4 linked regions of the Homo sapiens genome follow. The protein of the gene in region 4 interacts with the protein of the main gene of each other region in a biochemical or structural test. Each region holds a gene or a part of one and is shown on either strand. Other genes may lie near its edges.

The links.
Region 1: of the proteins of LATS2 (region 4) and AJUBA, one has a biochemical effect on the other in vitro, tested with the Homo sapiens proteins (one study listed by BioGRID).
Region 2: of the proteins of LATS2 (region 4) and KIF23, one has a biochemical effect on the other in vitro, tested with the Homo sapiens proteins (one study listed by BioGRID).
Region 3: of the proteins of LATS2 (region 4) and FBXL16, one has a biochemical effect on the other in vitro, tested with the Homo sapiens proteins (one study listed by BioGRID).

What each region holds. Positions count from the first base shown.
Region 1 is NC_000014.9:22,979,372-22,986,682, forward strand, and holds the start of AJUBA (LIM domain-containing protein ajuba), read right to left. Parts: upstream 3,181-7,311; 5' UTR 2,896-3,180; coding exon 1,890-2,895; intron 1-1,889.
Region 2 is NC_000015.10:69,409,945-69,417,599, forward strand, and holds the start of KIF23 (kinesin-like protein KIF23), read left to right. Parts: upstream 1-4,404; 5' UTR 4,405-4,521; coding exon 4,522-4,532; exon of another isoform or gene 4,533-5,165; intron 5,166-6,049; coding exon 6,050-6,119; intron 6,120-7,438; coding exon 7,439-7,567; intron 7,568-7,655.
Region 3 is NC_000016.10:702,621-710,064, forward strand, and holds the start of FBXL16 (F-box/LRR-repeat protein 16), read right to left. Parts: upstream 3,182-7,444; 5' UTR 2,892-3,181; exon of another isoform or gene 2,887-2,891; intron 1-2,886. UniProt on the Homo sapiens protein: Substrate-recognition component of the SCF (SKP1-CUL1-F-box protein)-type E3 ubiquitin ligase complex.
Region 4 is NC_000013.11:20,981,587-20,988,863, forward strand, and holds part of LATS2 (serine/threonine-protein kinase LATS2), read right to left. Parts: coding exon 6,295-7,277; intron 2,221-6,294; coding exon 1,638-2,220; intron 63-1,637; coding exon 1-62. UniProt on the Homo sapiens protein: Negative regulator of YAP1 in the Hippo signaling pathway that plays a pivotal role in organ size control and tumor suppression by restricting proliferation and promoting apoptosis.

The sequences.
Region 1 (7,311 bases), on a different chromosome or scaffold from region 4:
GCCCATCCCAGTCTTTGCCCAGGGGCTTGGGAGCCTGTGCAGCAGCTGCAGCAACTGATGGGCCCAGGCCTGTCCTGCTCCCACCCTCTGGCAGCTGGGCAAGGCTGAAGCCAAGGAAGAGGGCCCCTACTAGGGGCAGGAGGAGGGTACAGTCAAGCTGGGGCTAGCGGCACAAGGGGTATGTAGGGGTTCTGTCAAAGGAGGCAACCTGACTCCCAAGGAGAAGGGGCCCCCATCTCTGAATTCAAAATGTGGCTTCCTCATGGAAGTGAAGATCTGCCCCAAGATTGCCATGCCAGGGGGTCCTGTCGGAGCCATTCTTTAGGAAACCTTGGACGTTATGGGAAAAGCAAACGAAACTGCTCAGGCACGTTGGCCTCACCTCCTCTAACCCAGCATATCTATACCTATGTTCTTCCTGCCATTTTATTGCAGTTTCTCTGAGTTCCTTTCTTCCTTTTGGCTCTGATGGTTCAGCCAAAAAGACTTCTTTACTAGCCACCTCTCCTGGGCCTCAAAATGAAACTGCTAAATGGGCCCTGTCATTCAGTCTTCCTTGATCAAAGCGGTTTGGCATCATCTCCTCTGGGCTTTCCTCTCGGTGGATTTGGAGGTGGGGAAAAGAATGGGGGTGGAGGCTGGGGGTTGAGTTATGCCCTTATAGCCTGCCGCCCTGCTACCTCTGAACCTCCTACCCAACCATCCCTCCCTGGCCGCGTTCCTCTTCCTATTCACTTTTCTAGCCATAGAGTTCTACAGCATGGGGTCCAGGAGTGGGGCATGAGTGGTAAGAAGAGATGCTTAGAAAAGTGAAAGAGGCCCACAGCCCTTAGGCGGTAAGCCTGCCACTTCTTTCCAATCACAATCAGATTCGAAGTTTTTTATGTGTGTAGCAGTGCCTGTGAATTTTGACTAAAAGATCTTTCAAGACCCTAATGTTCCTCATAGCTGAGACATATAATCAATCAATACTTCCTGAACAGAGTAGGGGAGGGAGACAGCGACCAGGTTTCCTTAACAGTGTCAGGAAGTAAGGCGCTACTTCTGGCCTGAATTCTGAGAGGTTATAAGCAGAATTCAAGGCCAAGTTATTTCTGGCAATAACACAGGGTCGTTATCCATCCAGAGGTAATGGTGTCCCAGTAGTCATGACTTTTACCCTGACTTCCGGAGGATGGGGAAAATAGAAGCTGGTACTACTGGGTCTCTGATTAAATGCCCACGCACGCACCTAGCCAACAGGACTGGGGAGGGACAGCAGTTGGGTCCCAGGGCGCTCCATCCTGTCTCCCAGGCTCCATTTCCCCGACAGCCGCCACTACTCCGCGTATGCTAGGGAGCGTCCCCCGATCCCCGAACCCCACCCCTCCGCCGCGCGGCGGCAGCCGCCCCGCCCGCGGGCACCTGGAGCGCCCGGGCAGGAGTCGGCACGCACGCGGCCAGCCTGCCCCGCCCCCCCACCCGCGCATTCTCCGAATTCCTGCGGGCGGAGCCTGGGCCCGGGTGGGGGCGCGGCGCGCACAAACCTCCAGGGGCACCGCCGTGAAAGGGGGGAGCAAGTTGGGGGGGATGCGCCTTCACTGCCCCACTTGGTCCCTTCCCTACGAGGCCTCCTGCCGCAAAAAACCGAGGTTCAAATGCTTGAGAAACGGACTCACGAGATACCAGGGGGGTTGAATTTAGCAGAAATAAGGAGCCCTGGTTCATCTGAAAACTAGCAGGAAGGGGACAGTGCTCTGGGGCCGCCCCCATCCATCCCTCTTGCTTCTTTCCTAGTCCCGCGTCTTCACCTCGGACCCCGGGGCACCGGCACTTTGGGCCGTCGGGGCAGTGGAGAACCGAATACCGTGACGGGTCCCTTCCCGTCCCTAACCACTTCTCTCACTCACCGAAGTAGTCCTCCCTGGCCTCTGGCTCCCGCATCCGGGCCCGGGCGGCCTCCGGAACGAAAGGACCTGGTGGCTCCTCCAGACCCGACGGCTCAATCCCCGAGGGTTCTCCGCGGGCTCCGGCTTCTCGCCCACCGGTGCCCACCGTCAGGCGAAGCAAAGCTGTTAGCTCGTCCTGGTACCGGGCGCCCACGGCGCAGTCCCCGTAGCCGGTCACAGAGTGTCGTCCGGGTTGCGCCCCCCGTCTCTCCAAGGGCCCCGCCGCTCCCACTCCGGCCCCGGCTAGAGCTCCAGGGCTGCCCAGGGCCGGGGGATACGAGTGGCGGCTTTCCTGGCAGCCGAACCCCGCGGGCCGCTGAGCGTACAATCGGTCCAGGGCGGCGTGGAGCTCCGGGTAGGCGGACGGGACCCCTCCGGGAGAATAGCCTGCCGGTGCTCCGGCCAGGGGTGGGCCAAACAGGCACGGCCCCGCTGGCAAGGGGCTCCCGTGGCGCTGGTCGTAGCCCATGCTGATGCCGCTGGTGCGATTGCTGCAGGGCCGGCTACCTCCAGCTCCGCCAGCCCCCGCCCCGTCCAGCAGCAGGCTGCCCCGGGGGCTGGACGGCTTGCTCGCGTCGCTGGCCGAGCTACTGGCGAAGCTAGAGCGGGGGCTGAGGGCCGGGGCCGTGGGCTCCAGCCGAAAATCGGGGGGCAACGACTGAGGTAGAGGCAAGGCCCGGGTGGGCGGCGGCCCCGCGGGAAAAGAGCCTTCGTAGCGCGGCGCCTCAAAGGAGCCGCGCTGATTTCGCTCAGCGTCCAGGGAACCTTGCTCCCGGGCCGGCTCCAACGGCTCATCCCCAGGTCCCCCAGTAGCTCCTCGGGGCCCTGACTTCCTAGGTCCCCCCAACCCACTTAGGCGCCCCTTGCCCGGCCCGGGGGTCCCGTCAGACCCAGACCGGCTAGATTCACCCTTTCTGCGGCCGAACTTCTCCAGCAGGCGACTGGCTTTCTCTCCTAACCGCTCCATGCCCTCGGGCCTGGGGCCTCTCGCCCCCTCCCCGCCTGGCACCCTGCGGCGTCTCGGCGGCCGGTTCTCTTTCCCTGCAGCCGGACTCTGGTTCCCCAGGGGCACAGGGGAGGCACAGGGGCTTAGCGGGCGGCCTGGATGCCCTGCGCCAGGAATCCCACAGCATCCCCCAGCGGGAGGGGCTGCGTCCCCCCGCGCATCTGGGGCTGAGCGGGGCTAGCAGGGTCTCTGGCCGCGGCTGTCCAGTCCGCAGGTCTATCTGTTCACGCGTCGACTCGCCCGACTGCCCCACTCTCCCCGGCCCCCGCCCCCCTAGCTCTCACGCTAGCCACAGACCGAACTTCTCTCCCAAACTTTTGTCTGCCTGGCCGGATCTACTTTCCTAGGGGGGCGGAGCGCGGTGTGTGCGAGAGCGCCGGGGGTGTCCGCGCAGGGATAGCTGGTGTGCGTGCAGCGGAAGGCGCTAACTGCCCTGGATGTGGAGACCCGCGGACTGGACGTGAGAGGCGGGCAGGGGCAGTTGGGGCAGCTGCCCCTACAACACTGAAGAATTGGAATAGGAAAGAGTGTGGGGGTAGGGGACGGGGACTCTTTGTCTGCAGTTGGAATGCGCGGAGGGGCATGGTGGAATGTGTCGCGTCCCGGGACCGGACGACAGGAGGCATGTTCTGCGCTAGCACCGTGACTTTGTTCCCAGCGTGGGGACTGTGGGAGAGATGGAGAGAGACTGGTACAGAAATGGTGAGACAAGGAGAGAGCCATAAAGAGGAAGACAGAGAGAAAGAAGACAAATGCATAAAGAGGTTCAGAGACGTGTACGTAAAGATAGCCCTGAAAGGCGACGAAGCCCACAGAGAGAGGTGGAAGAGGGAAGAGGTAGCGAAAGAAAGGGAGAGCTGAGGAGCAAAGAGGAGTGTGGACGATGCAGAGACCGAAGGGTGCGCAGACAAAGGAAAGGACAAGCTTGTCCAGAGAGAATGAGAGACAAACAGATAAACTGCAATAAAAAGGCACCACCTTCTGGACCCAAAAGTTTTGTGATTTGTAAAAGCAGTGAAAAGGAGTCAGGAAAATGGGACTAATCTCTACTTTGAGAGGGAGGGAAAGAGATATAGTGTGTATGTAGAAGCAGTGAAAAGGAGTGAGGAAAAGGTTTGGGACTAATCTCTACCTTAAGGGTAGGACAGTTAGAGGGATAGACACCCCCTGGTGTTGGGAAATGAGATTTTTCTCATTTCAGGTGACTGTGGAGATCGAAGGCCTGGTTTTAGGGCTAGCGAACACCTTCTCCCTTTGGTTTTGGTCCACAGAAGACTGGTGATACAGAGTAAGTATTAAGAGGAAGAAAAGAAATGCCGTGTAGAGGAAATTGCAAATGAAAATGATCAGGATGGAAAAGAGGCTGATATTGACTATTTTAAAAGGATCAAGAATAAGGAAAAGAAACCCTGGCTGAAGCAGCCGGGCGCGGTGGCTCACGCCTGTAATCCCACCACTTTGGGAGGCTGAGGCGGGCGGATCACTTGAAGTCAAGAGTTCAGACCAGCCTGGCCAACATGGTGAAGCCCTATCTCTACTAAAAATACAAAAATTAGCCAGGCGTGGTGGCGCACGCCTATAGTCCCAGCCACTCGAGAGGCTGAGGCGGGAGAATCGCTTGAACCCGGGAGACAGAGGTTGCAGTGAGCCAATATCACGGCCACTGCACTCCAGCCTGGGCGACAGAGCAAGACTCCGTCTCAAAAAAATTCTCAAAAATAAATAATAATTTTTTTTAAAGAAACCCTAGATGAAGCTAAACATACCTAATTAAATACCAGCCAACGGCCGGGAGCGGTGGCTCACGCCTGTAATCCCAGCACTTTGGAAGGCAGAGGCGGCGGGATCACGAGGTCAGGAGTTTGCAACCAGCCTGGCCAGTATGGTGAAACCCCGTCTCTACTAAGAATACAAAAATTAGCCGGTGTGGTGGCGTGCACCTGTAGTCCCAGCTACTTGGGAGGCTGAGGCAGAAGAATCGCGTGAACCCAGGAGGCGGAGGTTGCAGAGAGCCGAGATTGTGCCATTGCACTCAGGCCTGGGCGATAGAGGGAGATTCCGTCTCAAAAAAATTTTTTAAAAACCAGCCAACTACTTTTGCCCAGACTAAAACATCAGGGGCAAGGGGTGGAGGAAGTAGAATGGAGAAGGAAAATGACTCCTTTGTATTTAGATAGTAAATGAGTATGAAAATTATATGCAAACAAGTCATGCATATTATTTTCATCTCAACATTTTGAACACCTTTTATAATCTTAGTGTAGCCTTAGGGAATGTGGAAAGAAACGAGGTTAATATCTTTTGGGAAATTAATTTGTGCCAAACTATTTGGCTTCTTCGTCCTAGTTGCATTGTCTCCCTGACCTCATCTCCCCTGAGAATCAGCCTCTGTTTCCCTGGTCAAGGCCACGGCTTTTCTCTGATCCTGAGGAGAGTTTCCTACCAGAGTGGAAGCAGGGAGGACTGAAAGCACTAGGAACAGAGGGGAGCTATCGGATTGCATCTAGAACCTGCTGTGAGCAACATCTTCAGAATTAACCATAATGTGTTCCCTCCTTTCCTGTGTCCAGATGAGGAAGGAGAACTTTGATTCTTCCTTCCAATTACATCCAAAATATCCACACAACTACTAATATTTGGAAGCTTTGATCCTTTGGGGTGAGGATGCGAGAGGAAATCTTATGAAATGTTGGGAGGCCATTAAAGGAGGCCCATGCAAGAGTTGGTGGTAGCAATGGGCACAACTGGGATGAACAGCCTGTGTTTTCAAGGGATAACTGGAAGCAGAGATGAGTGAAGGGGAAGAAGTAGAAGACGCATATGCTAATAGGGCATGCTCCAATAGTGCTCATGACCTCAGGTGGCCTCTCCACAGTCTAAACTGGAGCTGGGATCTCCAAAGGCCCTCTTCGTTCCCAAGACTTTAATTATAATCTGTATATGCAGGTGACTCCCTAATCCATATTTCCAGCCCAGTCTTTCTTGGAATTAAAAACTCAACTAACTACTAGCATCTCCAATGGCTGTCTCAGAAGCACCCAATATCCTAAACTGATCTCATCTTCTCTGCCTCATGAAACTGGCTCCTCTAACATTCTCTGAGTAAATGGCACAATCCTGTTAGCTGCTTAAACTAGAAATCTGAGCGTCAACCCTATGTCCTCCTTCTCCCTTAACCTCAAATCCAACCAAGTCCTATCAATCACCAAGTTCTATTAATTCTGCTTCCTAAACATCTTCCAAATCTGTCCTCCCCTCATCACCACTATATATGTCAAGTCACCGTCTTTCCTCTCCGAAACCAATGCAAAAGTCTCCTGGCCAAGGCTTGCTCCCTGCAATCCATCTTATACCCTGAGGTCAAGTGATTTTTTTCAGTACAGAAGCTTTACGACTTACAATGGAGTTATGTCTGAATAAACCCATCCATTATAAATTGAAAATATCGTAAGGCAGAAGTGCTTCTTCAACTTCACCATATTTTCAGCTTAAAATGGGTTTATCTGATATAACTGCATCATAAGGTGAGGAGCATACTGAATCATTTCGCACCATCGTAAAGTTGAAAAATCCTAAGTCGAACCATCGTTGAGTTGGGGACTGCCTGTAGGCAAAACCTGTCGTTTTATTTCCCTGCTAAAACAAACTTTCAATGATTTCTCACTGCCCTTGGGTTGAAGTCTGTACTCTGTATTATGAGGTCTGTCTCACTCTCCAGCCTCTCCTCTAGCATTATCCCTTCCCCAAAAGTCTGCAGTAGAACTGGACCTTGTCTGTACTCTCTCTTGCCCCTGGACTTTTGTACCTGCAGTTCCCTGTTTGGAACACTCTCTTAGCCTCCCCTTTCCTTCTGGTTAACTCTTCCCCAGTTTAGACATTACACCCTCTCAGAAGAAGCCTTTCCAGACTGCAAGAGTAGGTTAGCTACCCCTGCTGTATATTGCCATAGTGCACTACACTCCACCATGGTCACCCTTATCACAGTTCATTTCATTGCCTACTCCACTGCCTGGCTTCCTGACTAAACTAAAAAAATCTCTGAACAGCATCCAACCTTATCAACAATGTATCCATAGCACAGTACCTGACACCTAGTAAAGCGATCAATGTTTGTTATAAGACTGAATAAATGTAAAGCCATTTTTGCTTTTCAATCCATCCAAAATGCACACCCCTTCCTCAAAATACAGCTTGGCTGACAGGACCAAGAAACAGCTACAAAGCTGTGTATTTTGCTTGGTCACATAGTGAGAGAGAGGCTGCCGGTGAGACACGGGAACTCTTTAAGCCTTAATTTCCTCATCTGTAAGATAGGAATAGTAAAATTTTCCTCATGTAATTCAATAAACAATAGCTATTATATCAGGAACCCAATTC
Region 2 (7,655 bases), on a different chromosome or scaffold from region 4:
AGAAAAGTCGTTGCCAAGGCCTGGGAGTAGGGGCAGCCCAGAGAATTTTCCACTGTGATGGAAATATACGTTTGATTGTGGTTACAGCACACTATATATTTGTCAAATACACATAACGATACAACTAAAAAGGGTCCATTTTACTGTATGTAAATTATACCTAAAATACTTGACTTTAGAAAGAAAAAAGCCCCTCAGTTCTCTTCTCCCCACCCTCCTACGCGCACTCCTGATCTGGATCTCTAATTCTATGGTAAAATGCAAATCTTTTAATGGCTATAGGTAGCCCTTTGCTATTTTTGAATAGAAAAATGATGTAATTATTTGGTAGTTTTAAGGAAATTAATAAGCCAGAGAACTTTAATACAGAAGTGAGGGAGGAAGAAGAAACTGGCCTGAAGAGAAGCTGGAGGTGGTGCGATGTAACTGGGTCCTCAACTGGAGCGTTCTTTGAAGGGATGATTCATTCATCCCTTCAAGCCATGTATGGGGCACCTGCACTGCTAGGCACTGGGCATGCAACGATGCCATCTAGTGAGGCTGTGGGGATAAGCCAGTAGAGGAGACAGGAATGAACAGTGACTGCCAATTGGAATGTGAGTGCTGAAACAAGTCAACAGGTGCAGTGAGTGGGAAAGGGCAGTTTTGGGGGCGTGGGGGCTGTACCACGGGGCCCAGTATCCACAGCAGGGTAGCTGGCAGATCTGCAGAGAACTGAAGGCAAGGCATTGTCAGAGGAAAGGAGGGAGGAGAGCGTGACAGCACAGAGAATGGCGTGTGAGCCCAGCGTGTTCAGGGCACTGCAGTTCAACATGACTAGAGGGGACAGGGGGCAGTGATGGGTGATGAGCCCCAGAGGAAGCGTCTCAGGGCCCTGTGGTGGGTCTCCAACAATGGGGAACCACTGCAGAGTTTCATATAGGTATGTGACATAATCAGATCCATGATTTAGAGATGAGCAAAATGGAAACTGAATTGGAAAGTGGCAGCAGAGAGGCCTGTTAGGAGACTGCTGTCTTTATCAGACAAGAGAAGATGGTGGCTGAGGAGACAGAGAAAAGTGGAGCAGTTTGGAGGTTTGGCTACTTAGTAGGTAGAACTGTTAAGATTTAGTGATTGAATATTGAGACAGAAGAAGAGAGAAAAGCTAACAATGTTGCTTTAGACTCTGGCTTGGTGGATGCCATCCACTGAGAGGGAGCAAGTTTGGGAGAAGAGATTAGAATGTGTTAGATGTGAGATGCTTGTGGGATATCGAAGTGGAGAATCCAGAAGACAGCTGGATATATGGCTCTGGAGCTCAGAAGAGCAAACATGAATGGGATGTGAAGCCATATGAGTGCTTGAGAGTGCCTAGGGAAAAGGCACACCTAGTGACCAGCTCTAAACCCTGAGCCCCAACATTTAAGGGAGAAAAAAAGAACTCACAAAGGAGACTGAGAAAGAAGGGCTAGACAGCTAGGAGAAAAAATAAAGGCATGGGAAGAAAGGAATGGGCAACATTTTTTAGTGTTGTTAAGAAGCCAAGTAAGACAAAAGTCAAATAGATTTAGCATCAAGGAAGTGGTAATTTTGGTGACAAGAGTTCCAATGGAGTCTGAGGTAGAAGCTAAACTGAAGAGCAACTAGGATATAAGTAGTCAGCAACCAAGCCCAATTCCTAAATGATAAAAATTCCAAACTCTAGGCCAGGTGCGGTGGCTCACACTTGTAATCCTAGCACTTTGGGAGGCTGAGGCAGGTGGATCACTTGAGGTCAGAAGTTCAAGACCAGCCTGGCTGAGGCAGGAGAATTGCTTGAACCCCGGAGGCGGAAGCTGCAGTGAGCCGAGATTGCGCCACTGCACTCCAGCCTGCGTGACAGACTCCGTCTCAAAAAACAAAACAAAACAAACAAACCAACAAAATACCAAACTCTAGCTTGACAACAAAGTCCTAATCATTCAAAGACTTCAACATAGGAAGCAAAGCAATAAAAGCACTAGGAAACAAAAAATGAGAAATAAAATAAAAAACTCAGAATGGATGTATTTTTCCAGTATGACACAAAACAGAAGCCATAAAAGAAAAGACGGATTAATCTGTCTACCTGAAATTTTTTCCAAGCTGTCACAAAACATATACAAATAAAAATAACCAAAATGTGAAAAATAAAAGTATTTAAACTCGTATTTTGGATGAGGACCAATTTTTTTTTAATATAAGAACTTTCACAGATCATTAAGAAAAACGAACAACCAATAGAACAAAGAGGCAAAGAATATGAACACAGTTGATAGAGAAGGAATCAAAAGGGCTCTAAAATATATGAATAGACAACATTTATCTGAAAATAAATGAAAAATTTAACTACATGTTTTTTCTCACCAATTGATATGAGATATCAATAGATTGGTAGCTACTGAAAAGTTTGATAACACTTTGAGAATTGTGGAGAAATAGGCACTCTCATACAGGCTGGTGGGAGTGTACATTTGGACAGCTTTTATGGAGAATGATTTGCAATATCTGTGAAATGTTACACATATGTATACTCTTTGACTCAGCAATTCTGTTTCTAGAAATGTTTCCTACATATTTACCTGCATTGTATAAATTTCCACATTCATTCACTATAGCTGTATCTGTAATAGGAAAAGTTGGAACCATCCTAATGTGCAATGTAGGGGTGGAAAAGGTGTGATACTTTTCTTTACCCATCTTAAGGGTCACAGCTGACACTACCATAACAAAAAACAGGTTAGCAAGATAAATGGATAACTTATTGAATCACAGTTTTATGGGATGTAAGTGCCTTCAGAAATGAAGACCCAAAGACCCAGGGAAAGCTGTCCATTTTTATGCTTAGATGAGATGAAGAATGGACAGCTGTGTAGAAATGTGATTGTACAAAAGGAGTATGATCTAATAGTAACAGACTGAAGGAGGAATCCAGCAAGTCCTGTCTGTTCAGATTCTTCTTGGCCTCTCTGTGCAGCTTTCCTTCTTCCTGAGTGTAGGGCAAGACCCTTTTGGAACGAGGGTCTTATGACAAGGTACATCAAAGAATGTCTTTATGGCCAGCTCTTACACAAAAAGGTGGGGGAAGGCTAGATTAATATTTCTAGGTTTTTCTAGAATAATGTTTCTGGCTTGCTTGGGAGAAAAGGGGTTCTAGTTTCCATGACCCGCCTTGGGGAACAGAAATTCTGGTTTCTATTATTTGCTTTAGGAGACACAGAGGGGTGGGAGACAAGAGGGCAGGAGAAAGTCAGAGACAGACTTTGCTTTTAAGGCTTCTCTGAGGCACTTTCAGTCTTCTTTAGTTCAAAGCACTCAGTGTGCCAAAGAGCCATACTCTGGGGTGTCGTTTCCTGAGCACCAACAATATTGGCCAAGGACATTGTGACTATCCTTACCAGTGCTGTGGTCCTTTAGGAAGTTGAGAAGGGGCTAGAGTTCCATGAGAGCCCAGGTGTAGATGTGTATTTGGTAGTCATCGGCTTAGGGTCAAAGACAGAAGTGATATAGAATCAGTTCATCTAAGGCAAGAGTAGGTTCAAAAGGTTGCCCCTTAAGGGTAAGGACCAAATTTTATTCATCTCCGTAAGGCCAGGATCAAACACAATCAAGATTTGATAAAACAGGCCGGGCGCAGTGGCTCACGCCTGTAATCCCAGCACTTTGGGAGGCCAAGGTAGGCAGATCACCTTAAGTCAGGAGTTCTAGACCACCCTGGCCAATATGGTGAAACCTCATCTCTACTAAAAATACAAAAATTAGCTGGGCGTGGTGGTGCGCGCCTGTAATCCCAGCTACTCGGGAGGCTGAGGCAAGAGAATTGCTTGAACCTAGGAGGTGGAGGTTGCAGTGAGCTGAAGACTGCAGTCCAGGCTGGGCGACAGAGCAACTCCACCTCAAAAAATAAAAAAGGAAAAAAAAAAGATTTGATAAAATAATGTACATATAGGACAGAGCTGGAGGGAAACCCAGGAAAGGTGAATCAGAGAGAGAAAAGACGCCAAGATAATGTGGTGACTTGGGAGCCAGAGAGACGGAGCCTGAGACTTGGAGCAGGGCACAGCACAGGAATACAACACTTTTCACCAGAACGACATTCCGACCTCTGAATCAACCCTGGAAAGGCCCTTCCATTGAACTTCTTGTGATGGAGGAAAAGAAACCCTCAGTTTCGTCATCGCAAGGCGGAAGAGTTTAAATACCATACCTCAAGATCTCCCTCCAGCCCTGACACGCGACTCCGCGGCCCTTTCAGCGTCGGTCGCCTAGGAGACAAGCGCCACTTCCGGCAGCGAAGTCACTTCCGCGGAGGTCCTGCCTCTCCCTGCGGACGGGCGCTGATTGGCCCGTTTGAAATGCGCCAGGCGGGAGCTCACCTGGGCTCTTAGCGTCGCCGCCGGCTTCGCAGAGCACCGCGCCTTAGCCGCGAAGTTCTAGTTCTTGCTGCCGGTCCTAACGTCCCGCAGTCTTCGCCAGCCAGCCGTCCCGCATGCGCGTTTGGGCGGCGTGGAGCCTGCTGCCATGAAGTCAGCGTGAGTACGAGGCCGCCGAGCAGGGAGAGAGGGCGGACGGGGGCCGAGGCCTCGGGGCTGGGGGCAGGCGTCTCCACTCAGGCCGCGGCCGTACGCGGGCAGCGCGGACAGCATCCCGCCCGGTGCTGCTGCGGCCGCGACCCCAAAGTGGGAACCTCCACGTGTGGCCGCTCCGCGGGAGCCTGGGCGCGGAGACCCCTGCCGCGTCGCCCCCCGCCGCCCCGCCTGGGCCTCCAAGGGGCCAGGAAGGGTCGGCCCGGAGCCGGGGTTGTTTTACGCCGCACCCGGTTCCCGGGGGCGGGGCAGTCCTCCTCGGGGTCCCGGGACAGCCTTTCCCTTCTCCCTCGCTGGCTGCCGCCGCCTCCAGAGTGCAGTTGGCCAACTTAGTGCGGGTCGGAGGTGGTCTCGTGTGTGGAGCAGAGCGAGTGTGCTGGGCATTGGTTAGATGGGCTCCGTTTCTGGAGAGCCCTGGCACCGGTGATCGCCGCTAGCTTTTTTTTCAGCCGAGCACCCTGTCCTTGAGGCCGAGCCCATCCGCTTACACAGGCCAGTTACTTCTGCTGTATTTTGTGGCCGCAGAGAACCTCCGCCCACATTCCTAAGCTAATATTTTCGGCGCAGCATCATTCCTGGGTAAAGAAATATTTGTCGTGCAAAGGAGAGGATTGGCTTTATTACCATTTAGGGAGTCGTTTGCAAAAGACAACTTGTTTATTAAGAGGCCGAAGTCAAAATCTTTAGATGAAAAAAATTATATATAAGAAATATACGTTGAGTTTAACTTAAGCCCACCACAAAGTATTTTGCACTGAATAACACGAATTTGCTTGTGTTTCATCTGAGAATATGTTTGGAAAAATATTTTTAAACTACAGTCGAAGCCAATAATCTTACTTAATTTTAATGTGTTAAATGTATATCTAGCCTATAGATAAATGTGAAGGGAAAAAGATGAGATGCTAGAGAAATGGTGAAATCAATCAAAATAACTTTTTGATTGCCCCTACTTAAGAAACCAAGAAATTGGCAGTTTGGGACCAGATTTTGTTTGGAGACAAAGAGTAATGTTTTGAGCATTCAATGACTGGTTGTTCCTTGAAAGTACAGGCGTAACCCTTGACGAAAGAATGGTTTCCTCCATGTGCATTTTTATAGTGTATTGAAGTTAATCGCTTGTCAGTCTGTAAAGTGTGGGCAGTTATAATTTGTAGTGCCTCTGTTAAATTGTTGCTCAAGAAAATATGCAAGCCATTTTAAGTATAGAACTAATCAGAGAATAAGTAGGTAGCTTTGGTACCAAAAATGTATTCTAAAGCAAATTTTAATTACTTTTGGATTACGCATGCCACAAACACTCTGCTACTATGATTATTAATGTTATTTGGGATGCAGTGTTTTGCAACTGCTAAGGGATAATTTACAGATAACCTAGAAAGATTGTATAAGTTTTAGGTGAGGCTTTTGTATTCGTGTTGAACTGAAAAAAAAGTTATTATTATTTTTTAATCTATGACCAGGAGAGCTAAGACACCCCGGAAACCTACCGTGAAAAAAGGGTCCCAAACGAACCTTAAAGACCCAGTTGGGGTAAGGTATCCCTGTAAATTTATGTGTGGTGTTTAAGAAACTTATCTCTTCAGTCCTTTCTGTCTTATGTGTATGCTTGGAAGGGAAAGAAGAAGACATGTGGAAGTATAATCAAAGAACATTTAGTTAAATGGATGTACTACATTGTGTAAAACTAGTGCTAGCTGTGAAATTTTCTCTATAAGATTAATTAAATTAGTCCAGTAAAATGAAGTCTTTGGTTGTCAACTGCATACCTTCTGTAATTATAATTTGGAGAGTTAGATAATTAAAAATCTCCAACTGGGTTCATATTCATCCCAGAGAATATGAACTGAGTTCATGCCATACAGTAACTGATGGCATGAGGAGAGTTCCAAACTTCTTGGGACCAAGTTTAATTCAGTTAAATTATGAAGAAAAAATGAAGCAGGCAAAAAGAATAAGAATTTTAAAACAAAACAACAAATGGCAAACAAAAAGGGTTCTTTGCTCTGAGGTATTTTAAATCTATCCCTCGTTGCCACTGGAGTGGGTCCCTGGCTCTGAGTTAAGGGAACCGGGTGCTTTGCACACAGCTGAATGAGTTTTCCTCAAGCCCCCTCCCCTGCTTTCAAAAATGTCTCTGTAGGCTGGGTGCGGTGGCTCACATCTGTAATCCCAGCACTTTGGGAGGCTGAGGCGGGTGGATCACCTGAGGTCAGGAGTTCGAGACCAGCCTGGCCAACATGGCGAAACCCTGTCTCTACTAAAATTACAAAAATTAGCTGGGTGTGGTGGTGGGTGCCTGTAATCCCAGCTACTCGGGAGGCTGAGGCAGGAGAATTGCTTGAACCCAGGAGGTTGCAGTGAGCTGAGATCATGCCATTGCACTCCAGCCTGGGTGACAAGAGAGAAACTCTGTCTCTAAATAAATAAATAAATAAAAATGTCTTTGTATATTAAATGTTGGGTTAAGCTGACAAGTTTTTAAATTGACATCCATTTCCAAGAAATTCTAACAGTTTTAAAAATCTCGTGTGACATGTTGTTGACTTTTAGAGATATTAGTAGTAGTATAACTATTATTTGTGTACAATATAATAGTGAATACACTGCAATTTGATTTTTATTAAAATTTATTTTAATTTTGTGTGTATTTAAAGTATTCTCATATCTAATACATACTTGTATTTGTCAATCTCAAGTAGCAGATTTTAATTTTCTTAGCCCTTGGAGATACAGAGCTCTTAAATTGAGAGACTGAATGTTTGTTGAATGAATGAATGAATGAGAAGCTTAAGTGAAAAATCAGGCAAAAGGTCGAACTTTCTTCTTAAAGCACCTTCCTATTTCTTCAGGTATACTGTAGGGTGCGCCCACTGGGCTTTCCTGATCAAGAGTGTTGCATAGAAGTGATCAATAATACAACTGTTCAGCTTCATACTCCTGAGGGCTACAGACTCAACCGAAATGGAGACTATAAGGAGGTAATTCTGATTTGGACCAAGTTGTTTTTACTCAATATGTTGTTTCCTGAATGACTTCTAGATTTTTAGATGTAACAAAGTTCATTTG
Region 3 (7,444 bases), on a different chromosome or scaffold from region 4:
GTCAAATTTAGGAAGAGGCCGGTCAGCGGGGAAGGCACAGCTCGGGAAATTAACCCGGATCGTGCCATGGCCAGTGTCCGCGGGGAGAGTGGCCTCTGGGGTTGGGACTAGGTTGGTACCTGAGTCACTGAGAGGGCTCCCAAGACCCCAGGGCTGGGGTGGGCCTTGCAATACACAGAGCCTTCGGATGAGGAGGGCCCATCTCCTTTTCAGCTGGCTCTCTCTTCAGGAGCTGCAGGGCTGAGGAAGTGGCTGCCCGTCCTCCACCATCTGGCCTGAGCCAAGAGAGGGAAGGGGGTCCTCCTGCCCCGCTCTCCCTGGCACCACACGCACCCCTCCTCTGACCGGCCAGAGTCCTTCCTTCACACACTGCCTAACTAGGAGTGGGGAAGCAGAGCTTGCAGACGGATTTTCCAGAAGTTACATAGAGCTAGGATTGGCTCCAAAAGCCCCGGGGCTGGCTGATTCCCTCTACCTGGGTCCTGCCAGGTGTACCTCACAGGGTCCTCGCTCTGCCCTGTTCTGCCTCATGGGGTCTCGATGCCTTCCTGCTGGGCCCTGGGCTAGTGGTCTCTCCAAGTACTGCCCTCATCCTGCAGGGTCCCTGCCACGGCGCTGCATTCCTTGCAGAGGCTGCACACCGCGTGCCCACCCCTGGGACATCCTTTTGGACACATGCCTGGGAAACCTCCTCACCCCTCAGCGCCCCCAGTTTGAAGGTCTCTTCCCCCATCTCTGGTGCCCCCATCTCTGTCAGCACCAGACTGGGGCACAGCCTAACCAACCACTCAGCCCTCATAGAACCTCAGGGACCATTGAGCCCTGCCTGCAGAGGGCCTTAGAGCTGGGCAGGGCCCTGGTGGCCAGAGAAATGCACATCGGGCTCCATCTGCAGTGGCAGCCCCAGAGCCTGGCTGACAGCTGGGGTGGCTGGGGATTGGGGACAGGGTGCAGACTGACACATTCCGTGGCAGCCCCGTGACGCAGGCACACCCGCGTCCCTGCCACTTGGCACGTGGCACAGCGGCAGAGCTCCTCTCCCGCCCCCAGTTTGAGATGCTTCTGGGGGTGCACCAGGGGCTCTGAGGAGGGGCACCATGGCGCAGCAGGCACGTGGCCTCAAGAGAAACCCGTGTTGCTGCCCCAGCAGACTGAGGGCCCATGGTCAAGCCCAGGGCAGCTCAGCCTTGAAAGCTGGACACCCTGGGGAGTGGGTGCTGGGATCCAGGCCTCATCTCAGCCCCTGCTCGGAAGAGCATGAGCACCCTCAGAGGCGAGGCCTGGGCCCCTAGTGCCTACTGCTCCAGGCAGCTGCCACTAACCATCACCCCTCTTTCCTGCCCAGTGAAGGAATGAGGCCTGAACCCACACATTGCAGCCAGTTTGGCCGTTGACTCCTCCTGCACCACTGGTGGGGAAGGCTCAGTCACCTGCTCACCCACAGAGCTCCCTTCACTGCCAATCCAGTCATGGGAGGCACAGCAGTGGGTGCCCACATGCAAGGAGATGGGGTCTTCGGGTGGCTGAACAGTGCCACCTGGGTGGGAGATCCCTAACTCTCAGCAACACAAGGCTTCCTGGGTCCATGTCCAGCTGGTTCAAGGGCCCCGTGCCTCCCACACAGGAAGCTGTTTGTGTCCTTCTCATCAGTGGGAGGTAGGACTCGTCCAGCCGCCCCGGAAGTGGGTGTGAGCTGGAGGCAGTGAGTCTGTCGATGGAGGGGCTGAACTCAAGGGTCTGGCCCCAGATGAGGGGCAGTTGGGGTGGCAGGGGGCAGGGAGTGGGGCAAGTGAGTCCTAGGGTTCCCCCACACAGCGATGTTTGCAGCTGGGCCTTGAATTTCCCTCCCCTCCAGGCGGCTCCAGGTCCAGCCCTGTGTCCACCTCTGGCCAGACCAGCCAGGTTCCACTAGGCCTCTGCCCTGGTCCGGGAGACAGAAAACCCTTCAGTCTCCTGGCCTGACCCAGGCCTATCTGCTCCAAGGCTGCTGTCCAGCACCCCACAGAGGGGGTGGGCTGGGAGACGGCCCTGTGTCCAGGGAGGCCTGAGCTGCCCCTGGCCATTGGGCCCTCGGATGCACGGGTGTGGGGGAAGGGCCTGAAGGAAGAGGCAGGTGAGGTGGCCTCCGCCATCTGCTCCTCCTGCGGAGGGCAGGCTGCCCGAACAGAGCCTGGAGCCTGGGAAGGGCCTGGAGTGGCCGCTGGGCCGTCAGTTCCTGAAGCTGCCACCGCAGCCCTCTCTCCTGAGGTGATGGGTGGGGAACGCTCTCCACCCACCTAATCCCCAGGAGGACACCGGACCCCTCCCGAGCAGGTCTGAAGGTGCCGTTTCCCTTCTGAGGCCCTCCAACCTTGGCCAAGGCCCGGTCCCGCCTCCAGAACCAGGAAGGTGCCAGCCTCCCCCCACCCTCCTCCTCCCGCGGGCAGTAGCTCAGCGCAGGCCCCGGGTCCAGAAGCCGCCCGCCCGGGGAGGGCCGCCCCTCAGGCCGCACATCCACGCGACCCCCATGCAGTTTAACGGTCTCTGGCCTGTCACTTCGGTCCGGGGGCGCCCTCTGAGCCGACCAGGCGCCCGGGGTGGAGGCCGGGGGCCTACAATTCCTCCTTTCGGCGTCCCAGGAGGCACGGACCCCCAGCCCCGGCCGAGTGGCCAGTGGGGAGCGGCCCTCTTCCGGGCCAGGGGCCGGGGCGCGGGGCTGCGGGAAGGCCAGGCAGGGACCGAGGCCCAGCGGCCGCGGGGGAGGTGGGGAAGGGGCTGCCGTTACGTAAGCCCTTCCCGGGCGGCGGCGGCGCGGCCCCCACCCCCACCCCGCCCCCTCCTCATTGTGGCCGCCGCGGAGGTGCGGCCTGGCCCCCTCCCGGCCCCGCAGCCCGGCCGCACGCGCACCTTACCTCGGCCCGGGCTCCTGGCTCATGCCACGCTGTCCGCCGGGCGACCTCCCGTCATGGGGAGCCCGGCATGGGCGTCGGCGCGCGGGGGCCGCCGGGGTGCTGGACTGGCCGGCAGGGCCCGGCCGCGCCCTGCGCCCCGCGTCCCGTCCTGGCCGGGCCCCCTCGGCAGCGCACGGAAAGGAGCTCCCCGGTGGGAGAGGATCGGCCGCCCCAAGCCTCCCACCGGGGAGGCTGAGGCTGTGCCCAGATAAATAAGGCCGCTTTGCAGGGAACCAGGCGGGCGCCTCCTCCTCCCCTCGCCCTCCCCGCGCTCCTCCGTGGCCGCCGCCGGCGCCGCGCGCGCCCCCCGCCCGGCACCAAACGCCGCGCCCTCGCGCGCTCCCGGCGTGGCGAGCCAATCCGGGTTCGCGAGCCCGGGCGGGGGCGCCGAGAATGCCGAGCCCCGCCCCCGCCCCGCCCCGGCCCCCGCGCGCGGCGCGCTCCCGGCACGGCGTCCACGAGCACGCGCCAGGCCCGGCACGCGCCCCCGCCCCGCTCGCCGCGGGCACCCGCACAATAACAAACCCCGGCGCGCGGCGGGCGGGGAGGGCGCGGGAGGCAGAAGGGAGGGCGAGGGGAGGCGGGAGAGCAGGCGCCGGCGGGTGGCCCAGGGGTCCGGGGTCCTATGGGGACCGGGGCGGCACCGCGCGTCCCGGCCCTTGGCCACCACTTGGGGAGGCGAGGAAGGCGAGACCCGGCCCAGAGGAGACAGGGTGGTCAGACCCCCGTCTCTGGACCCTCCCGCCCAGCCCACGGCAAGGACCCTTCACAGCCCTCACACCCCCCGCGCACCTGCTGCGTGCCCGGCCGGAAGCCCCTCATTGGAGACCCTGGCACACCCGCAGAGCGCGAAAACAAGTGACTGCACGGATCAGTTCAGACAGTGACAGTGAAAGCACCCGAGGGCTTGCGGTGGTGACTTCTGGCGGGGGCTTCCTGAGGGTGCCCCACTGGAGCTGAGACCCCCCCACGGCGCGAGGGAGGGATGGCTCGGGAATGGGGGTGCAAAGATCCGAGGAGCCTGGCAAGTTCCCTCGGGAATAAACTGGAGGCTGGAGGCGGCGGCGGCTGCTGCAGCCCGGGGCAGGGGTGGGGCGTGCTAGGTTAGGTGGAGGACTCGGTGGGGACCGCTGGAGACCCCAGACGCCCCAGCAGGCTCAGGGCAGGAGAATGGAGGCCAATGGCGCCCTATCCTGGGGTCTCCTGGGAGCAGGGCCGGGGGAGGGAGCAGGTGTGGGGAGAGCAGAGGGGTTCTTTGCACCGGGAAAGAGCTACAGGGCTGAATGGGGCTCCTGAGAGTATCTCAATAGGAGTGAAACCAGCTGCTGTTCCCAGCGTCCTGATGGGAAGCCTGGCCGAAGGGGCCGGTGTGAGGCCTGGGGTCAGCGGGAAGGAGGGTCAGACTGACGGCACCCTGGCTGGGTCCCGGGGTGGGGTGGTTCTGTGCTTGCTGTGGGGGCGCCACTGGGTCTACCTGGGGTGAGCGCAGCAGCTCTTCTGCGTAAGTCTTGCCCGGTACCTGGATACTGACCAAAGAAGGTGCCCGGAGTGGGGCAGACAGGACGAGCCCCGTGAAGACAGTTGGGGCAACAGGGGAGCGGCGGTCCAACCTATCTGGGTGTCTCCGGTGCATGGTCTGGCAGGCTGGCCCTCTGGCAGCAGCTTCCACCCCAGGCGTGGACTGCTCCCGGTAGGAGGGTTTCACCTCGTGCCTGGGGCTCTCACCACAGCAGGTGCCAGGGCCTCAGGCAGAGAACAAGCTGTGCTTGTGTTGAGTCCCAGCTGGGGCTGGAGCCGGACACACCCCAAGCGCACAGGGCAGGCTGGACACACCCCAAGTGCATAGGGTGGGCTGGACACACCCCAAGTGCATAGGGTGAGCGTGGGAGTCAGGCATTTGGGTCATGCAACCCTGGCGAGGCCCAAGAAGCTAGCCCTGCCTGTGGGGAATCTGAGCAGGGAAGAGTGTGTGGAAGATCATCACAGAAAGGCCAACCGTGCTCCTCCAAAGCGGTGACCCACCTGCCCTCCACCTCTGTGACCAGCTGTGACCCACCTACCCCCCACCTCTGTCACCAGCTGTGACCCACCTACCCTCCACCTCTGTCACCAGCTGTGACCCACCTACCCTCCACCTCTGTCACCAGCTGTGACCCACCTACCCTCCACCTCTGTCACCAGCTGTGACCCACCTACCCTCCACCTCTGTCACCAGCTGTGACCCACCTACCCTCCACCTCTGTCACCAGCTGTGACCCACCTACCCTCCACCTCTGTGACCCCACCTGTGCCGGGCAACTTTGTCTGTCTCCACCATGGCTGGTGGCAGCTACTTCCCCATTGGTCTCTCCACCCCTCTCCCATCTCCTTTTCTCCCCAGGGTGCAGCGGGGCCATTTTGCCGTGCAGACATGGTCCTGTTCTTCCCAGGGCCCTGTTCATTCTTTGCTGAAGACTGCACAGCCCTGAGTGCCTGGCACGGCTGGCCCACAGCCTCGCTCTATACCTGGCCCCTTGAGGATGAAGCTTCAGCCACACTGGCCTTCTTCTGGGGCCAGGAGAGTGCCCCATCCCTAACCTGGTGTGCCCCTCCCTTCACCTGGAGCACCCTTCACCTGGGGCACCCCTCACCTGGAGCACCCCTCCCTTCACCTGGAGCTCCCCTGCAGCACCCCTCCCCTGGAGCACCCCTTCCTGGAGCATTTCCTCATGTGGAGCACCCCTCCCTTAGAGCACCTCTCGCCTGGAGCACTCCTCTCCTGGCCCCTTGCCTGGAGCACTCCCTTGCCACCTGTACCTGGGTGACTACTTGCCTTTCAGACCTTGGCTAATGTATTCTCCCCTAGGTGCCCTCCCTCAGGAGGACAGGGCCACAGACCCGTGTCCTCACCTCCCCAGCACCAAGGACCTTCTTTTCTCAGCCTGTGTCTGCCTGGTGTCTGATGGTGCATTTGATGAGCTATTGGCTGACTGTGCCTGCTGAGGGCCAGGGTGCGGTCTTCTTCCCCACCACCCTGTCCCTGGGCACTGAGCCTCCATCTCAGTACGTCACAGGTGCATGGCAAATTTGGCGAATGAGGGAGACAGCGATGCGTCAGCAGCATGAAAGGTGACTGGCACCAGCAGTTTGGATCGCCTCCTGTGGCGGGAGGCCCTTGTAGAGGATACCTTTGGAGAACAGCTCACACCCCAGAGGGAAGTGGCTTGGACAAAGGGGGCTGCTCAGCAGACTTCGATCTCCTCTGGGGGATGTGGATACCGCTCAGGCCCGCACCCCTCCATTGGTCCTGGAGACTGATATGGGAGGCGGTATGTGCCTTGGCTCCGGAGGGCACCTGGAGCACCCCTCACCTGGAGAACCCTCATCCAGAGCACTCCTTTCCTGGAGCACCCCTCACCTGAAGCACCCTCAGTTGGAGCATCCTCTCACCTAGAGAACCCTCACCTGGAGCACCCTGTTACCCGGGGCACCCTCACCTGGAAAACCCTCATCTGGAGCACCTTCTCACCTGGAGAACCGTCACCTGGAGCACCCTGTTACCTGGAGCACCCTGTTACCCGGAGCACCCTCATCTGGAGCACCCCCTCACCTGGAGCACCCCTCACCTGGAGCACCCCTCACCTGGAGAGCCCCTCTCCTGCAGAACCCCTACCAGGAGCATACTTCACCGGGACCACCCCTTGCCTTGATGCCTCAGCACTGAGGAGTCTCCCATCTAGGTGGCTGGGAGGGCACTCTGGAGCCATGGGGATGAGGACCAGAGGCTGCTGGTACATCTTGCCCTGAGACTTTGGAGGACTGCAAGGGGACCCACATTCACTTCAGCTCTGCACCTGTGGTGATATCCCCACACTGGAGAGCAAAGTGATTGCTCCGGGGGCCAGATGGCCACGCCACCATCCCCCCACACACTGCCCCTGCCCCCTGCCTGGAGCACAGCCCGAGAGCACCCAGGATCATCCATGTGAAGCAGCAGGCTGTGGGTATGTTTGGCCGTCCCGACCCCTCCACAGCCAGAATGGGCACCCATAGGCATGAGAACCTCACAGCCATTAGGGGTGCCCTGAGTGCCATGGGCGGTGGGATTTCTCTGATGCCCCCCAGCTCTGCTCCCTGCCTGGCTCGCCCCCTATCAAGGCTAAGGATGACTCAGGGCCCAGCCATCACCATAGCAACACGCGTCGCCTAGCAATGGCGGTCTCCCGGCAACGGTTGTCTCCTAGCAATGGGATATTTTCCTGGGCCCTGGCTGGAGCCCGGCAGTTATTTTTAGCTCCACAGCAAATCAGTCGGCAGCTGCATTTTCGGCTCCTTGAAGAGAGGCAAGGTGTGGGGGGGTGGGTCTCTCGGCAAAGGGAGGAAAGCATCCCCAAGATAGGAATCTTGCTGCCGTGGGCCCGGAGGTGCAGGCCTGTGGGTGGGCGAGGCCGGATCCTGCCTGTGCAGGGGGGCAGGTGGCCGGTGGAGGGGAGCCAGGGGTTGTGCAGGCTGCCTGGATGAGTCGGCAGCTAGGA
Region 4 (7,277 bases):
ACAGTTAGACACATCATCCCAGAGGTCGCTGGGCTCCATGCTGTCCTGTCTGACATGGCTCCCTTCACCCAGGAATCAGGGATAGTGAAAGAAAAGAACAAAATATAAAGTGAATTTTCACTCTTCAATAACTCAACAGATCCACAGCTTAAAACAGCAAAGTCATTCCAATCAGCTCCTGACATATCAGGACAGAGAATCCCCGCTGAGCTGCTCCATAGGGGCAGCCTGCTGTTCCTAGTTTGGAGACACACGTGGTGAGGTTGGCGCTAGCACCAAGGTAGAAATGACGGTGAAGAATCACAGGACACCATGCACCGTGCTGAGCTGGCAGGAAGGCACTGCAGGCAGGAGAGGCTGGAAGAACTGCGGGGACAGCACTCCTAGCGCTTAGGCCATAATCAAAAGGTAACAACTGCCTGACACATGTTTTAAGATGAGCATGGAAAACTTAGGAGGATTTAAACAACATGAACAAAGGTTACTTCAATGCCAGAAAATGAGAATGAATTAAATGATTTAGAGTTAGTTTTGAGTTAGAGAAAAAAGACTAAGTGATGATATTAAAATAACTACTTCAAGAATCTCAGCCATAAAGAAGATAATAATCAGCTGTTTTTGGCTTTTCCAAATGGCAGAACTATAGGAAATGGAGTTCAATGATACACTACATAGATGCAGGTTGGCTATAAGAGAGGGCTCCTTGGGAGGCTGTGACTCTTTTATTTATTTTATTTTATTTGAGACAGAGTTTCGCTCTTGTTGCCCAGGCTGGGGCGCAATGGCGCGATCTCAGCTCACCGCAACCTCTGCTTCCCGGGTTCAAGCGATTCTCATGCCTCAGCCTCCCAGTAGCTGGGATTACTGGCATGCATCACCACGCCCGGCTAATTTTGTTATTTTTAGTAGAGACGGGGTTTCTCCACGTTGGTCAGGCTGGTCTCGAACTCCTGACCCCAGGTGATCCGCCCACCTTGGGCTTTCAAAGTGCTAGGATTACAGGCGTGAGCCACCATGCCCAGCCAAATCTTTTATTTTTTAAGGCTTGCTTTAATGAGGCAGGTGATGGTTCCCCACAAAGGCCCCGTGACACCTTGTAGCCTACTGTCTTAAAAATATAGTAGGCCAGGCACGGTGGCTCACACCTGTAATCCCAGCACTTTGGGAGGCGGAGGCAGGCGGATCACCTGAGGTTGGGAGTTTGAGACCAGCCTGACCAACACGGAGAAACCCCGTCTCTACTAAAAATACAAAATTAGCCAGAGGTGGTGGTGCGTGACTGTAATCCCGGCTACTCGGGAGGCTGGAGGCAGGAGAATCACTTGAACCCAGGAGGCAGAGGTTGCAGTGAGCCGAGATCACGCCATTGCACTCCAGCCTGGGCAACAAGAGCGAAACTCTGTCTCAAAAAAAAAAAAAAAAAAAAGTAAACCTGAAATCCACTACCTTAAAAAAAAATGCATATCACACTATTCCTTTTGGAAGGGAAGGATGTCACACCAATTTATAAAATAATGGAGTGACAGATAAAAATTTCAAAATGATTAGGAGCCACTAGGATGGGAAATTTAGTTGCTTGCAATGGGGTTAGTGACATCTACACATAGAAAGTGCATGTGGCACACTTCAGACAATACCTTTCTGGTAATATTTGGAATTGTGAGTCCACCTGAACCCAGTGCAGAGGCCGAAATCTGTGAGTTTAATGTGACCATCCAGATCTATCAAAATGTTATCAGGCTTGATGTCTCGGTGGATGAAGCCCATCTTGTGGACACTCTCAATGGCCAAAGTCAGCTCTGCGATGTAGAACCGGGCCAGGTGCTCAGGGAAGACCTCCATCCGGATCAGCAGGCTCATCATGTCCCCACCAGGGATGTAGTCCATCACAAAGTACAGGCTGTCTTTGTCTTGGAAGGAGTAGTAGAGTTTGACCACCCACTCATTGTCTGCCTCGGCCAGGATGTCCCTCTCGGCCTTGACGTGGGCCACCTGATTCCGGTTCAGGACATCCTTTTTCCTTAGGGTCTTCATGGCGTACAGGGCGTGAGTGTCCACCTTACAAGCAAGGCACACTTCTCCAAAGGCACCGATCCCCAGGGTTTTGATCTTGACAAACATAGACTTGTCCATCTTGGCCCTCTTTAACCTGTTGTAATTAGACTCTTTCTGGTAGAGGATCTTCCGCATCTGCTCCTGCTCAGCTTCACAGAGTCCAGCCTGTGTAGAAGGAAAAGGAAGGAGGAAGAATCACATTAGAGAAGTCCCATGATAACAAATGACTGGGATGGGGATGCCCTGGAACTGAGAGGAACCTAGCTCATTTTACAGAAAGGAGAACAGAGAAGAATGGGTCTCATATACTACAGAGTCTCGCTCTGTCGCCTAGGCTGGAGTGCAGTGGCACAATCTCAGCTCACTGCAGCCTCCGCCTCCTGGGTTCCAGCGATTCTGCTGTCTCAGCCTCCCGAGTAGCTGGGACTACATGTGCCCGCCACCATGACACCTGGCTAATTTTTGTATTTTTAGTAGAAACAGCGTTTCATCATGTTGGCCAGGCTGGTCTTGAACTCCTGACCTCAGGTGATCTGCCCACCTTGGCCTCCCAAAGTGCAGGGATTACAGGCTTGAGCCACTGTGCCCGGCCAGTTTTGTTTTTTTATATCCATATATAGACATGAATATGGAATGAAAAGTTAAGATAAAAAAGAAAGTTCTTTCTCTAGGATACTTTTGGCTCTAAAAACTAAGGGAAACTTCTATTAACACAAATCTGTGGAAAAGGGGACCACAGCATTCCTAGAACTCCAAGAGCCATCTAATCTTTCAGTAACTCAGGGAAAATGGGAAAGCAGGAAGAAAAGTCAACAATCAGCATACAAAAATCAGTAGCATACATTAGATAGACTTGTATATGGTGAGAGATAGGGTCTAGTTTCATTCTTCTGCATATGGATATCTGGATTTCTGTACACCAATAATGAATGCCATTTACAACAGCTATAAAAAAAATCTAGGAGTAAATTTAACCAAAAAGTGAAAGAGCTCTACAAAGAAAACTACAAAACACTGAAGAAAGAAACTAAAGAGGACACAAACAAATGAAAAGAGATCCCATGTTCACCGACAGAAAGATTTAATATTGTTAAAATGACCATACTACCCAAATCAATCTACCAATTAAATGCAATCCCTATCAAAATACCAATGATATTTTTCACATTACTAGAAAAAACAATACTAAAATTCACAGGGAGCCCAAATACTCAAAGCAATCCTAGGCAAAAAGAACAAAATTGTTACCTGACTTCAAAATATGTTACAAGCCTAGAGTAACTGAAACTGCATGGTATTGGTATAAAAACAGACACATAGACCAATGGAACAGAATAGAGAACCCAGAAATAAGTCCACGTATTTACAGCCACCTGATTTTTGACAACGGTGCCAAGAATGTACACTGAAAAAGAGACATGCTGGGAAAACTAGATATCCATATGCAGAAGAATGAAACTAGACCCCAATCTCTCACCATATAGGAATGTCAACTTAAAACAGATTAAAGACCTAGAAATAAGACCAGAGGCTATGAAAATATACTCCAGGACATTGGTTTGAGCAAAGATTTTTATGGCTAAAATCTCAAAAGCACAGGCAAAAAAACCCCAAAGTAGACAAATGGGACTATATTAAGCTAAAAAGCTTCTGCAGAGCAAAGGAAACAACAGAGTAAAGAGGATACCTGTGTTGAACAGGAGAAAATATTCACAAACTATTCATCTGACAAAAGACTATTATTCAGAATATACAAGGAACTCAACTCAACAGCAAAAAAAATATCAAATAATCCCATTAAAAAGTAAGCCAAAAGGCCAGATATGGTGGCTCACGCCTGTAATCCCAGCACTTTGGGAGGCTGAGGCAGGCGGATTACTTGAGGTCAGGAGTTTGAGACCAGCCTGACTAACATGGTGAAACCCCGTCTCTACTAAACATACAAAAATTAGCTGAGCATGGTGTCGCACACCTGTAGTCCCAGCTCTCAGGAGGCTGAGGCAGGAGAATAGCTTGAATCCAGAAGGCAGAGGTTGCAGTGAGCCGAGATTTCACCACTGCACTCCAGCCTGGGCAATAGAGCAAGACTCCGTCTTAATTAAAAAATAAATAAATAAAATAAGGCCAGGCGCGGTGGCTCACACCTGTAATCCCAGCACCCTGGGAGGCTGAGACAGGTGGATCATCTGAGGTCGGAAGTTTGAGACCAGCCTGAACAACATGGTGAAACCCTGTCTCTACAAAAACATAAAACTAGCTGGGCGTGGTGGTGCATGCCTGTAATCCCAGCTGCTCGGTAGGCTGAGGCAGGAGAATCACTTGAACCCGGGAGGCGGAGGTTGTGGTGAGCTGAGATCGTGCCATTGCACTCCAGCCTGGGCAACAAGAGCGAAACTCTGTCTCAAAAAGAAAAAAAAGTGAGCTAATGACCTGAATAGACACTTGTCAAAAGAAGATACACAAATGGCTAAGAGGTGCATGGAAAGATGCTCATTAACCATCAGGGAAATGCAAATGAAAACCACAATGAGATATAATCTCTCCCCAGTTAGAACGACTATTATCAAAAAGGAAAAAAAAGAAACTAAAAATAGAACTACCATACAATCTACCAAACCCATTATTGGGTATTTATCTAAAGGAAAGGAAATCAGTATATCAAAGGGATACCTGCACCCCATGTTTATTGCAGCACTATTCACAACAGTAAAAACATGGAATCAACTGAAGTGTCCATCAACTGATGAACAGATAAAGAAAATGTGGTCTGTGTACACCATGGGATACTATTCAGCCATAAAAAAGAATGAAATCCTGTCATTTGGAGCAACATGAATGGAACTGGAGGTCATTATGTTAAGTGAAATAAGCCAGGAACAGAAGTTCGGTTAGAACACCACACACTGTTACTGATATGTGGGAGCTAAAATAATTGATCTCATAGAGGTAGAGAGTAGAATGATAGTTACCAGAGGTGGGAAAGGGTGTGTGTGTGTTGAGGGGAGATGAGAAGTTAATTGGTGCAAACATACAGCTGGATAGAAGGAACAAACTCTAACTAGTATGACTATGGTTAGTAAAAATGTATTCAATATTTCAAAATAGCTAGAAGAGAGGTCTTGAAATGCTTCCAACACAGAAATGATAAATACACCAGGCAATGGATACTCTAAATACCTTGACTTGATCATTACATATCCTATGCATGTAACAAAATATCACATGTTCCCCACAAATCTACAAATACTATGTATAAATAAAAAATAAACGGCTGGGTGTGGTGGCTCACACGTGTAATTCCAGCACTTGGGGAGGCCGAGGTGGGCAGATCACCTGAGGTCAAGAGTTCGAGACCAGTCTGACCAACATGGCGAAACCCCCGTCTCTACTAAAAACACAAAAAAATGGCCAGGCGTGGTGGTAGGCACCTGTAACCCCAACTACTCGGGAAGCTGAGGCAGGAGAATCGCTTGAACCCAGGAGGCAGAGGTTGCAGCGAGCCAAGATCGCGCCATTGCGCTCCAGCCTGGGTGACAGAGCAAGACTCCGTCTAAAAATAAATTAAAAAATAAAAAATAAAAATAAAAAAAACACAAATGAAAAGTATATCTGTAAAAAAATCAGTGAATACGGGACACTGAAAAGAACACAAATCTGGTTTTCAGGCTTTGGAATTATTGGCTTTGTGTGATTTAAATCTGTTACATTTTAATTTAAATAGTTTCATCAATAATTACCTTCTTCAGCACTTCAGTGTCAACTAAGGTATATTTAAATCATTAGTTACTAACTAAACACTTAAAAGAATAAATGGAATCACTACTAGATACATTTTTCTTCCAAAATCCCACAATCTCAATTTACAAAACCTTAAACTTTGTTTCTACTCATTCAAATGTTCTATTATTAATCCATGATGAATTTTGTTAAGCGAGGACATACCCTAAAACTTAATTTGCTAATTTACCTACAATGTAAATTGTAGATTACCTACATTACGCTGGCTACATTATGCACAGCTATCTCTGATTCTTCAGAAGAGTCAAGGGGAAAGGCGAAAGGGAGGTCACACCATTTGCAACTTCTCCAAGTTGTTGGCCCCAGAACCAGACTGTCGCCCATTAGCCGTTTTGATGATAAGGGGTATACAGTCGAAACAGAAAAGGGATTGTGCGTGCTTCCTATTGCCAGTAGAGGGATGAGCCGGGAACAAATAGTAAAAATGAAGTGTGAAATTACTTTGGCCATTTCTTGCTCCAGCTGCAGCCTCCGGTTAACCTTCTGCTGGTAGGTTTTGATGACATTCTCCACGTGCTGCTCCATGAAGAACTTAAAGGCGTATGGCGAGTAGCTCTTGATGCGTGACTCTCTCTTCTCTTCGTCTCTGCTGTTTTTGCGGACGGGAACGGGAGAGGTCTGAATCTGCTTTTTATCCTTTCCGCCTTTGTCCCCCTTGGCGCTTTTGCGGCTCTTGTCGCCGCCCTCGGGCTCGTTGGGGCCCGCACGGAGGCTCTGCTCCATGCCTGCGCACAGGCTGTCCAGGTCGTACTGCTCCGACTTGCTGCGCAGCAGCAGGTGCTTCGGGTAGGGCGGAGGCGGGCACCTCCGGTCTGGGCCTCCGTACTCCACGTCCAGCGGGAAGGCGCCTGCGCCGCCCAGCGCCAGGGCATGCTCCTCCTTGGCGTCCAAGCCCTCCGCAGCCGGGGCGGGGGCGGGGGCGGGGGCCGGGGCAGGCGCGGGCACCCAGGCGGGGTGCGAGGGCCCCACAGCCGTCTGCGGCTCCGGCCTCAGCACACGCACGCTCTTCACCGGGTGCAAGATGTGCGCGGCCGTGACAGCCGTCACGGTGTTGGGGGCGGGCAGGGAGGGCTCGGCCTTGCCAGGCGGACCGGGCCGCGGCTGGTGGCTGTTGAAGGAGTTGGTCCTGCTGGGCACTGGGCAGTCAGGCCGGAAGGCCACGTGCGCGCGCGGCGGCGCCTCCAGGCCCGGCTTCTGCAGGGAGTCCCGGCGGGCCAGGGTGGCAGCCGGCCACTGCTGGACGGAGGTGCTGCCCAATTCATACAGGTCCACGTTGAGGCTGTTCCGCGAGGGAGTGAGCAGGCTCTGCGGGGGGCTGTCGCTGGCGAACACCTGGCTGCGGGAGCCCAGCACATGCAGCTGGTGGGCCGCGGGACCGGCCTGCTTGTGGTGTGGGTGCGGCACGTAGAGCCCGGCGGCAGGGG